Homo sapiens: one gene and its partner. The protein of the gene in region 2 purifies or fractionates together with the protein of the main gene of each other region. This does not show direct contact. Each region holds a gene or a part of one and is shown on either strand. Other genes may lie near its edges.

Region 1 (7,526 bases), on a different chromosome or scaffold from region 2:
GGAGCCCTGGCGGGGAAACTTTTCCAGGCGACCGCCGCGGCGGCTCGGGCGCCCCTCGGCCGCCCATGCCGCCCGGGCCCGACTGCGGGCCCGCGTTCCCAGCGCCGTGGGCCCCAGCGCGTCCGGCCCCGCGCGGCGGCCCTGCGGGGCCTTCTGGGGCGCCCGCTGCCTCCGGCTCCTGGTAGGGGCAGGTAGGAAGTGGGGCAGGCGATCCCAAAGTCCTCGCGGCCGCCCGGCGCGTCCCTCAGGCCCCGCTGCCGTGCCCCCGCCCCCGGGCTCGGCTCTTCGCCCCGCGAGCTCCCCGGGAAGACGGCCGCGGAGACCCGAACTCGGAACCAAAGGGAAAGGCTTGGGGGAGGCACTCCGAGCCCTGCCTCAGCCGGACTCTTGGGGGACTGGCCCTCTCCGTCCCCCGCTTCCCCACTCCTGGGCGACGAATTTGAGCCTGACCGGGTTAAGTGCCCAGGGACGGCGGACCTGGGGTCCTCCACTCCCAGGTCGAGGGAGGACTGCACGGCGGCAGGACCAGCCTCCTCTTGGCCTACTGTTAGAGGAGTCACGACTTCGTCTGCATTTGTATAGACAGGTGGATATATGAGCAGAAGTAGCCCACCTCCTTTTAATATTTTTAGCTTTTTTTTCTTTTTAGACACCAACCGCTTGCCAGGCACCAGGCCAGTCACTTTACATTATCTCCTTCTTATGTACATGATTTAATCCACATAATCCTTTCAGGCTGAGATTATTAATCCCATTTTACAGATAAGGAAACTGAGGCGCACAACGTTTAAATAATTTGCGCAAAGTCCCACAACCAGCAGACCTCAGATCCTGCAAGAGACTGGGGTGTTTGGCAGAGCCTGAATCCAAGCTACTTGCAATATACCAGCCGGAGCCTCTCCCTCCCTGGGCCCTAGAAAACGTTTGTGCTACTTGGCTGAGGCCGACGCTGCTTGAGCTGAGAAAGAAAAGAAGGAAAATGTGGCCAGGAGCTTCCCAGGCTGGGTTATTCCAAGGTCGCAGAGTAGCCTGTGCCCATCTCTTCTCGCTCCCTGTGAGATAACCTGGCTGCACAGGATCAGCCTGTGGCCTCCTTAACACAGGTTCCCGGGTAATGGGAAAAAAAAAATCCACTGAGTGTTTTCTATGAGCCAGGCACCATTGAGAGCTCTTTTCCTGTGTCAACCCGTTTTATCCTCACCACATGCCCCATGAGGTGGGTACAGTACATTTTCCTTTAAGTACCTTTGATGTATCACTGTCTGCATTTTATAGAGGAGGAAACTGAGGCCCAGAGAGGTTAAATCATGATAATTCTTAAGGCAACTGGTGAAAAATCAATCAGCAAACCGGTTCAAATCCCTGGGGCACTATTTTTTGCTGGGACACCTTAGACAAGTTAATTTCTCAGGGACTTCCTCAATTTACCCCTCTATAAAATGGAGATAATATTTAGTGAATGGGATCAGGTACGATTCGGGCACCTTTACAAACACTGCAAGAACTGGAAACTGGAGGAACAATGCTGGGTCCTCAAAGTTGAGCGGGAAGATAAGTCCAGTTGGCCTTGTCCCAAAGTGGGGACTTCCCCTCCGCCAAGGAACTAAGACTTGTAGGGGCCACACTGGGTAGCGCCAGCCACAGTTGGGAGAACAATACTCCAGCAGTCAGACTGAGGCAGGAAGTGACTCACGCTTCTTCCTTAGGCTGTGAGCAAGAGAACTCCATTGAGGGGAAACAGGGACAGGGCTGGCCCCACCTACCCACTTGTCCTCAGGCCTAGAAGAAAGGTCAGCCCAGAAAAATAGCAATACTTGCTGCTTCAGGTGCCCCACCCATCCTGGAGACTGGCCCCAGGGGAGCCCGCAGTGGGTCTTTGGAGGGGGAGGGGCTAGCCTAGGCTCAGATGACTGCCACCCAGGCAGAGGCGGTGGGAAGTGGAGCTTCCCAGTTTCTTCCAGCCAGCTTGCCTCTTCAATCTGCATAAGGCAAAATTCTTTAAAGTGGGTTCTCAGAGGTGCCTCCCTGAGAGGGAGGAATGAGGACAGGATTGGGCAGTTGAGCACCTCTCTCTGCTTCACCCAGAGTGTCTCACATTTTAGGGTTTCACATGAGATTGTATTTTACAACAATTCTGCTGCTAAAAAGAATTTGAAAGCCACTCTCTGTGAGACTTCTCTGGAAAAAAATCCCATTTGACCACAACTGGTGACTTCTGCCTTTATCTCATTGCAACAAGTCCTGTGGGCAGGTATTGTTCTCTTTATCACTCTCAACTGGCCCTGGAGCCCAGGTCTCCTGACCTGGGGCCCTAGGGGCCCAAGGTCCTCTGGATCCCACCTTACCAGTTTTACACAGCAGTTAGCAGGACTTGGGCATGTGACAGAAGTCTGGAGATGAGTGAGAGGAGCAGGGCCTGATGGGTAAGTGGGGGCTGTAAAGGGGCTCCATTTTCCCAGCAGGGCTCTGGGAGGAAGAGTCCAGCTAGGCCTCTCTTTATCCTTGATTTGGGGCTAATCCAGAGAGGCTCCTGAGAATCACATAGTCCTAAATCCACCCAGTCATCCTGACTCCAAGCACTCCTGTTGTCTCCTTGGGGTGCTCTGGGAGTCTTCTCTGAAATCTCTGGTCCACCTCAGGCACAGCAAATAAAGCCTTCGGCAGCAGCACCCACACCTAGTTGTAAGCAGAATGTCTACACAACATTCAGACGTGCATAGAAGGGTGCACAACAAAATTCCATTGGTGTTCTCTCCGAATGAAAGGGTCACATTTGCGATCTTTGTTTTCTTCTTTTTGCCTACCTGCATTTTTCAGGAATGTCTACAAGAACTCCTAAAATAATTAAACCTTTAAGTCAATGCAAAATCGAATAAAGCATGTCCATACTTCACCATCCAGCTCCAGAGCACCTGGGATTCATCCTGGCCGCTGCTGCTTCCCCGCCACTCACTGCAGCTGCAACAGTCAGGCTCCTATCCCTTCACAGGGCGGGGCCCTTCCAGTTCTGGCTAAACCACTTTGGGAAAACCTTCTTTATATGACAGGCAAACAGGGTGTCTGTGGGTGGGGGGAGGAGCTAAAAGTGATGTGGTGGTGACATATCTGGTCGCACTGGAACTGGATCCTAACATGGCCAGCCAGCCCTTCTCATTTTCCTCATTTATTGGGGTGGGTCTGCACTTACCTTCTGCCTGGCTTTGCTGCATCCCAGCCACTGGCTGACTTAATGACTTCCTTCCGCCAGCTCCAGCTCCTTGTGTTCTGCCTTGCCTTCCATGGCCAGCCAGTGCTGCCACAATTATGTACCTAATAAATGCTTTGGGTGCAGTCTCGCCTGGCAGACATTCATTGAGCAGCTGCTGAACGCTGGGCTCTGGTGCCCCATAGCTGGGTCCCTTAGAGCTTGTCCATAGGAAGCCAGAGACCACCTCTCTAGTAGGGTTGCATGGAGGTACCTGGGACACACCAGGGTCTTCCTCAGTCTGCGACCTCCCTGGCCTTCCAGCTTCAACAAGCCTGCTGCCCATCCTTCTCTCTCTCGATTCAGAAATGTGAATCACTCAATCCTCATAGTTTTTTTTGTTTGTTTGTTTTATGGGTTTGTTTTTTTTTTTTCTAGACAAGAGTCTCGCTCTGTTGCCCAGGCTGGAATGCAATGGCCTGATCACAGCTCACTGCAACCTCTGCCTTCTGGGTTCAGGCGATTCTCATGCTTCAGCCTCCCAAGTAGCTGGGATTACAGGCTTACGCCACTCGTATTTTTTTTTTTTTTTTTTGTATTTTTAGTAGAGATGGGGTTTTGCCATGTTGGCCAGGCTGGTCTCGCACTCCTGACCTTAAGTGATACACCCACCTCGGCCTCCCTAAGTGCTGGGATTATTAGGCGTGAGCCACCACGCCCGGTCCCCTTGTTGAGTTTTCAATCAGTTTGTCATCCTGAACAGGGTTTCTCAACCTTGGCATTATCAACATCTTGGGTCGGATAATTCTCTGTAGGGGACACTGCACTCTACATTGCAGGATGTTCAGTCGCATCCCTAGTCACTAAACATTAGCTGCTAGTAGCATTCCCGCTCCCATGATGACAACCAAAAAGATCTCCAGGTATTGCCAAATGTCCCTTGGGAGACAAAAATCTCTCCCAGCAAAGAACCACTGTCGCAGAATGAGGAGTGGGAACGTCACAGGATGGTGGTTAGTGTGCCAGGGTTCGAGGCAGCAAGAGTTGTCTGCTGGGAACTAAGCTCTGAGACAGCTAGCAGTGAGGGAGAAAACTCCCAAACTTGAAACTGCCCAGTATGCCAGCACAACAATGGGCCGTTTAGTGATCAGGGCAAACAATCATGCATCCTCATGACATCTGAGATCACTTTCCATCGTGTTGGTGATAATGCTGAATCAAGGAAAGGATCAATCATGTTGATCATACTCCATTTTCTAAGGTGGGGAGGTGTGTGAGCCCTTGTAGCATTAAAGACGTATTTGGAAAACAGATCAGTGCTTGCTTGGGGAAGGGGGCAGGGAGGGGCGGGAGGAAACTTTTGGGAATGATGGACATGTTCATTATCTTGATTGTGGTGATGGTTTCATGGGTGTGTCCATATATCAAAACATATCAAGTTGTACACTTTAAATCCATGCCGTTTATAGTGTGTCAGTTATACCTCAGCAAAGCTGTTTTGAAGATGTGTTGTTTAAAGTTTTAGTGCTTGAAGGGCATTATTTTGAAAATTCACTACTGTGGAGTAGTCCATTTCTTTGCTGAATAAATAAGGGGTCACTGTAGTACTTAAAAAGAAAACAGGAAGAAAAAACAAACAGAAGAAGAAGAAGAAAAGCGATCATGGGCTGTAAGGTCGTCCTAGGCAGGGAAGGAAAGGAATGGCGTGAAGAGTTGGCTCAGTCGCCCCTGAGTGTGGCCCGGAGAGCCTGTCCTCTGGCCTACGGCAGGCCCCAGAGAGTCTTTCCGTTGACTGATGCCATCAAATCAACATGTCTGGAACGGTATTATCAGGGACTTGGGAAAAATAGAATGACAAATGTGCTGGCTGCCAGGAAAGGAACAGATGAGTCTGGAAATTATAGGCTCCTCCACAAACTTTAATCCCTAAAACAAACATTGCTGGGGAAAAAGTCAGTTAATACCTGGAGGAGTGTGAGTGCTGTCCTTCAATGGGGCACGGCACACCTGGGAGCAGAGAGCATTTACAGAAGCCAGACACCGTGTGCCAACCTGTGTCAACAGGCTCATGCTCAAGGGGCTGCACGTGGCAGCAGGGAGCACTGCGAGCGGCAGTGAGGGGCCCTCTCTGACGGTGCAGATGCTTTTTGGCTGATGGAGACCTCTACGGAGGTTCTCAGGAGCCCCTCAGCGAGGCGGGTGAGCAAGGAGAGGGGCTGTGATAGCGATGAGTTATATGTGAAAAGAAAAACTGCTTTTGTGGAGGTTGATTGTGCACTGGGCATTTCATTCACTCATTCCTCAGATACTCATTGAGTGCCTGCTGGGTGCAGGACCTCTTCCAGTGCTTCAGTTATAGCGAGGGAAGCAGGCAGTTCACAGGTGAATAAGCCAGTTTATGAGAGAAGTTCAGATCATCCTAAGAGCTCTGGAAGAAAATGATAAAGAAGGTAATGTGGGAGTGCCTGGGGAAGCGGGAGGGCTGCTATCCCTGGGGTGGTCAGGGAAGACCTCTGGGAGGAGGTGATGTTTGAGCTGAGGCTGAAAAAAGAGGCAAAAGTGTAAAGATCTGGAGGAAGAGTGTCCCAGGCAGAGGGAGAGGCAAGGACATGGGCCTGGGGGCATGAGCTTATGCACTTGGGGAGCAGACACTTCTTGGAGCATGGCCGAGAGATGAGATGAGAGGTAGGTAACGGGCTGGATCACAGAGCACTTGCCAAGCTGGGTCCAGATGTTGAATTTAATTATCAGAGCAATGGGCTCTGGATTCTCAAAATTCTTTTGGAAATTTGACTGATTTACCCTTTAATAAAAATTATTTATTTATTTATTTAGAGATGGAGTCTTGCTCTGTCGTCCAGGCTGGAGTGCAGTGGCGCAATCTCGGCTCACTGCAACCTCCACCTCCCTGGCTCAAGCAATTCCCCTGCCTCAGCCTCCCGAGTAGCTGGGATTACAGGCACACACCACCACACCCGGCTAATTTTTTTGTATTTTTAGTAGAGACAGGGTTTCACCATGTTGGCCAGACTGGTCTCGAACTCCTGACCTCAGTCAGTCCACCTGCCTCAGCCTCCCAAAGTGCTGGGATTACAGGCGTGAGCCACCGCGCCCAGCCATTTTATTTTTATATTTTTAAATTTAATTTAAAAGATGGGCTCTCACTCTGTTGCCCAGACTGGCCTCAAGCAATCCTCCTGCCTCCCCCTCCAGAGGTGCTGGGATTACAGGCGTGAGCCACCGTGCCCGGCAAATTTACCCTTTTTAAAGGCTCCTCTGACTACCATGGGGAGTAGAGATATGGGGGTTCGTGTGGGAACCCACCACAGCCCGACGCAGGAGGCACCATAGGTGACCCTCCTGATGTGAAATGTAGGGGACTGGCTTGGGGGAGTCCAGTGACTTTTTTTTTTTTTGAGACAGTGTCACTCTTGTCACCCAGGCTGGAGTGCAGTGGTGCGGTCTCAGCTCACTGCAGCCTCTGCCTCAGCCTCCCCGAGTAGCTGGGATTAGAGGCATGTGCTACCACGCCCAGCTAATTTTTTGTATTTTTAGTAGAGACGGGTTTTCATTTGCTACGTTGGCCAGGCTGGTCTCAAACTCCTGACTTCAAGTGAACCACCTGCCTCGGCCTCCCAGAGTGCTGGGATTACAGGTGTGAGTCACCGCCTTGAGTGACTCTATAAGCGCCCAGCCCCTGAATGACTTACAAACCAGTGAGCAGGTGGTAGGCTCCTGCGCAGGCCTGGGAAGGCTGGACAGGAGGTGAACCACACATCTGACCTGCGAAGTGGGGGCCTCTGCAGGACAAGAGCTGGCGGAGCAGCCAGGCGGGATCCCCCAACCCAACTGCTTAGGTGGGTTCAGGTGCTTCTCTCTAGACCATAGCCCTTGGGCATCTTTAGCCAGCGACTTGGCAACAAAAAGCTGCTTTGAGTTAACAGCTGAAACTCACAGTGAGTTTACGGGCTCATACTCTCAGGCTCTGTGCTCAATGCCTTATAATGATTGCTTCATATATTGCTCACAACAACCCTTGAGGCAGGTGCTGTTATGATCCCTGTTTCACAGATTAGGAAACTGAGGCCTGGACTCGCAGTCACTAAGGAAAATAAAGACCCAGGATTTGAACCTGGGACATAAGAATAGAAAGCCTACACACACTTCAACCGCTCTGCTTTCTGCCTCTACAAGAGAGCTGAACTGTGGCTAAATCAGACACAGATTCACTCAGCCATCGTGATGTGGGTGGCTCAGCTGTGATTCACATTTGACTTTTTCTTGGACAAGAATTGTTCACCTATGTTCTCACAGTAGTACATGCTGATTTTTCTGGTTTCTT
Region 2 (4,628 bases):
TTTTAAGGGAAGCAAGTCACAGAACTATATATATATACACACACATATTATATATATTTACATATATATAAAATGATCTAGTTCCTATTAAAAACTACATATATTTCTGAATCTACATGGAACTTTTCCAGAAGAATGTCAGACAGCTCACAACATTACCTCTGGAGGTGGGATTAGATGAGAACATCACTTCTGAAGCTGTTTTTCAGTATTGGTTATTTTCTAGTGGGCATGTATTAATCATAAAAACAAGGAAGCTAAATTATGCATGTATACACCCAGGCCTGTCATGAGTTAAGTCATTAGACCACTGCCCAGAAACCAAGGACTATGACTGTGTCCACTGATCTCATCTCTGTGCTTAGTGTTTGTTATGGAATGAAGTGTCTCGGAACTTGATAGTGAGGAAGATATTTTGATGCTGTGCATACCAGTGTCTTAGAAGACAAAACTGTTATCTACACTTTTGGTGTTGACTCTTAGCCACAATATTTACTTTTACCAACAGATACTATCAATTGATTTTTTAAAAAATCTTCCGAGTCACTTTTATTTTTAAGTCTTCAAGCTGTGTTTAGCAGTTCTAATTCAGATATATTGTGAGTGGGAAGGAAAGAAAACACATTTAGTCTTTGAATACTTGAGAGATAACACAACTTTCAGCAGTTAGTAAAGCAGTTAAAATAAAATTTTAAAATACTGGTTCTCTGCATGACATTTGAATGAAGGGGGAAAAATAAAATACTGGCTCTCACTTGAAAATAACTCGAGTGACTTATAGGTACAAACCATTAGTTGTATAGTATAGGTATTCTTAAAAAATTTATTTATAGAAACAGACATATTCAAATGCAACACTGGACAAAAACAAAGAGAAAAAGTTGGAATGCCGATGACAACAGAGAATCTCACTTTCACTTTCCATTTCTCTGAATTAGCACCATTAGTTCAGAAATCACAGATGTAATTATAATTGCTTCTAATATATAAAACACCTTATAAAGATCTGTAAACTATCTAATAGCAAAGTTCTTCCAAAAACGCATTTAAAAATCAATCAGAATTTACCATTTGAAACTGATGAAAATGGTTTAAAAATGAATCCAGTTCTACAGCTTGTCAAAGGGAATGAGCCATAATTAGTTTTATTGGAAGAAAGTGCCTGAATTCATCTTCTAGCCTCCTTCTAACCACCAAGCAGGTACAGCAAATTGAATATTACTACAGGAATAAGAGTCATCTAAAACTGGTCTTAGAAAATATTTTCCTAAACTATAAAAATACTAAATGGCATACAAAAATTTCAGCATATACAGCAAATAGACTACAGCAGACAAATATTTAGAACATACTTAAAACTATCTTGTACCACAATCATCATAAACATCAAGTATTCTTCTAATCAGTTTTCTATGATTCATTCTAATTCAATGTTTATTTACCCTCAAGTTTTGTTCTAGTGTCAGATACAGACCAAATTCTGTGTTTCTAGCAGAAGTTACTGGAGGAACCATTGAATAATTCTTGGTATTCAACTCGTTCTCAAAGTGCTGGAAGTGCAATTGTAGTATAGCCTATTTTTTAGATGAGGGGTCAGCAAACTACAGCCCAGGGGCCAAATCTGGTCACCATCTGTTTTGTCCGGCCTGGGAACCCAGCTACACATATTCCTTTATGTACTGTCTGTGGTGGCTTTCCTGCTTCAGAAACAGAGTTGAGTAGTTATGACAGAGACTGTATGTGGCCTTTTGGTCCACACAGTCTGAAATATTTACAATCTGGCCCTTTACAGAAAAAGTTTGCCAACCTTTATTTTAGATAAATCACTTCAAGAAATTCTTAACAAGGACAAGGTAAAAATGTCTAAGATTAAAAAAATTTTGGTTGAGGTGTGCTGGTTCCATCACATAGTAACATGGGGCAGGCCAGAAGAGTGCAAACTTGGATTGGCAACTTCAGGTCTTGAACTATATTATTCTGGCATTCTAAGCGAAGTCTGGCTATGATAAAGTACCTTCTATTCCTCTGTGAACTGGCCATTTTGTACCAAGCAATTCACGTACCACATTGCAGCAATGTGCTTACTGTTCAACCCCAACCATCTGTGGTTCCCACAAACAATATTTAGCCTTTAAAAAGCAATAATCTTCTACCCTTAGTAACAGACAAAACTAGAAGTGGACCTTTCCCTATGCTCTGTATTGGCATGGATTCTATACTGCTGTACTGCATACCTTTTAGAATCCTTCCCTGTGACATGCATCATAATAATTTGTACCACTGCCACCCAGGGCTACAAACATGTCCCTTTTCACAAAGCGGACCAAGTTTTCAAGCGGGCACATGGGCTTGGGAGAACGCTTGTGGTGGTCTTGGCAGAAAGAGGTGTGGAATGTGACATCGACGCCATTGTAAAGAATCCGGACGGAATGTTCACTGGGCTTTTCTCTGTCTTGCCAAAGCTCAAAGATCAACCTGGCTGCAAACCTTGGGAACCTGGCTTCTGAAAGGCCCAAGGCACTGAGAACTGGTGACAGAGTGACATCATGAGCAGAGTAGAGGGCAAAGAGCTCTTCTTTCCTGCCCTCGGTGGCACGCTGCATCCGGCCGATGGTTTGGTTCAGGATGGGGTGGGCACCCAGGAGAGAATACCCGAAGTACAATTTCTTCTCCCGTCTTTCCCTTTCATCCTCGATCTGATGGGTCTTAATTACCTTGAAGTGCTCCATGTCAACACAGCCATTTCTGGTACAGGGAAAGCTGACATTGTGGCAGAAGTGGCAGAGCATGGAGTCTATGGGGTTGGCAGCTCTAAGCTGCTTGGTGGGGACATCCACGATCTTGGCCATCTCCCCGTAGGTCTTCTCCAGCTGGCTGTTTTTCAAACGTAGGAGGTACTGACGACGCTGCTCCTTTTCCAGATACTGGTTTCTTACCGGGCAATAGCAGCTTCCAGAGCAGAACAGCGCACTTGGCTGGTGCCTGAAATAAATCTTCTTCCAGTCAAAATCTGGGAGAAAGCCATAAAGCAAGGCCAGCCCACTTTGTAGGGTCCGGCTTTTCCCAGTGGTCTCTAAATAGAGCTGGTCTGCAGACCAATCATTGGGCAGGAGTTTGTGTTTCTTTAGATAGATATCCCTCAGCAGCTGACCGTTCTGCAAATGCTGCACAACTCCTGAAACACAAGCACACAAAGCTTACCTTACTTCCAGCTGAGCAAAAGAAACAGCAAGGGGAGGTGGAGTCAGCGTGTGGCTCTGGAGTGTTTTAGGGCAAGAGAATGGCATCCAGCCTGTTTCCCCATGGTGTGGAAGTTACAAGCTCGAGTTCACAACAGCTTGTGAAGGGAGCCTCTTGGGGTTATTCATGAAGGATGAGCAGAGCGGGGCCCTGGCCTTGAGAACCACGGCCTTTGGACCATCTGCCTTGCACTTGGCCTCCAGACTGGCCTCTTCCCTGGGGAAAGTGTTGTGACTGGTTGGTCTCAGGGTTCGAAGTCACCCAGCCAGGGGATATCTGTAATTGCATGGGCCTAAGGAGAGGTTTTTCCCTCCTGTCCAGCATTCCTCAGTGTGCAGCGAGTGCTCAGTGAAACCGCTCAGGCGAAGGCTGACTGCAGATTCCCTGCTTGCTGCTGTCTCCTCACTGCTGGAGAGTCCCCTCCTTGACCCCATCCTCCCCAGCCTGCCAACCGAATGTTCTCTGATAACCTGCTGGGTACGTTCTGCCTGATCCTGGGGGCTTTACAGACTCGTCAACACACATGCATTCTCTGTATGATATGGAACAATCTCCTGATACCCAGATAGAATACTGGAAAAAAGCCAAGTGTAGAACAGTATGTTGATTATGCTCCTTTAAAAAGAAAGAGAGGGAAAAATAAGAATATGTATTTGCAGCTGCCTGAGTTTTGCATAAAGAAACTTTGGAAAGTTGTATAAGAAACTAATCTCAATGGTTCCCTGGGGGTGACGGAGGTACAAAAATGAGGTGGATGGAACATGGGTAGAAGCAAGAATTTAAAGTTTACTTCTTAGTACTGTTTTAGTTTTGAACTATCATGGTATGATAATAAATTAACTTTTAACATTGGAAAAAGCCTTATCTTTAAGCAGAAGAAGGCAACCCAAGACAAAAACAAGCTCACTCTCATCCTGTAGTAGGAGGTAACGGGACACAATCTGTCATGGGCATGAGTTCTACACACAGGCCCTGTGACCAGTGACACCATTTATTCAGATGTCCAAACAGTATGAAAAGTCCCACTGCAAAGATGAGACAACTTCAGCTGAAAATTGTGAGACAGAGGGAAATATGTTCCCCTGGGAAAGGGAACAGCTCAGCAAAACCCACAAAGGATGTCTGGGTCCTACTGTGCATGAAGAGTATTGAGAACAGAACTCCCCCAGGAACCCAGGAACTAAAGGCTGGAACAGGATTTAGCACTTCCAAGACGCTTTGCAAAAAAACATGCAAACCGTGAGAGACAAACATTAGATTCCGTGTCTCACCCTAGTTCACTGCGGGGCCTATTTTATTTGGTTAGGCCACATAAAGTTAGAGTGCTTACTGTGTGCCAGGCCTTTCCCATTTAATCCTCACAAAAACCCAATGAAGAAGGTATATTA

Evidence for each region.
Region 1: the proteins of PXYLP1 (region 2) and FURIN purify together in Homo sapiens (affinity purification with mass spectrometry; 3 studies listed by BioGRID and IntAct, with this or other methods). This does not show direct contact.

Annotation. Positions count from the first base shown.
Region 1 is NC_000015.10:90,864,075-90,871,600, reverse strand, and holds the start of FURIN (furin isoform 1 preproprotein), read right to left. Parts: upstream 3,014-7,526; 5' UTR 2,890-3,013; intron 550-2,889; exon of another isoform or gene 451-549; intron 62-450; exon of another isoform or gene 1-61. UniProt on the Homo sapiens protein: Ubiquitous endoprotease within constitutive secretory pathways capable of cleavage at the RX(K/R)R consensus motif. Mediates processing of TGFB1, an essential step in TGF-beta-1 activation.
Region 2 is NC_000003.12:141,290,815-141,295,442, reverse strand, and holds the end of PXYLP1 (2-phosphoxylose phosphatase 1), read right to left. Parts: intron 3,176-4,628; coding exon 2,238-3,175; 3' UTR 519-2,237; downstream 1-518. UniProt on the Homo sapiens protein: Responsible for the 2-O-dephosphorylation of xylose in the glycosaminoglycan-protein linkage region of proteoglycans thereby regulating the amount of mature glycosaminoglycan (GAG) chains.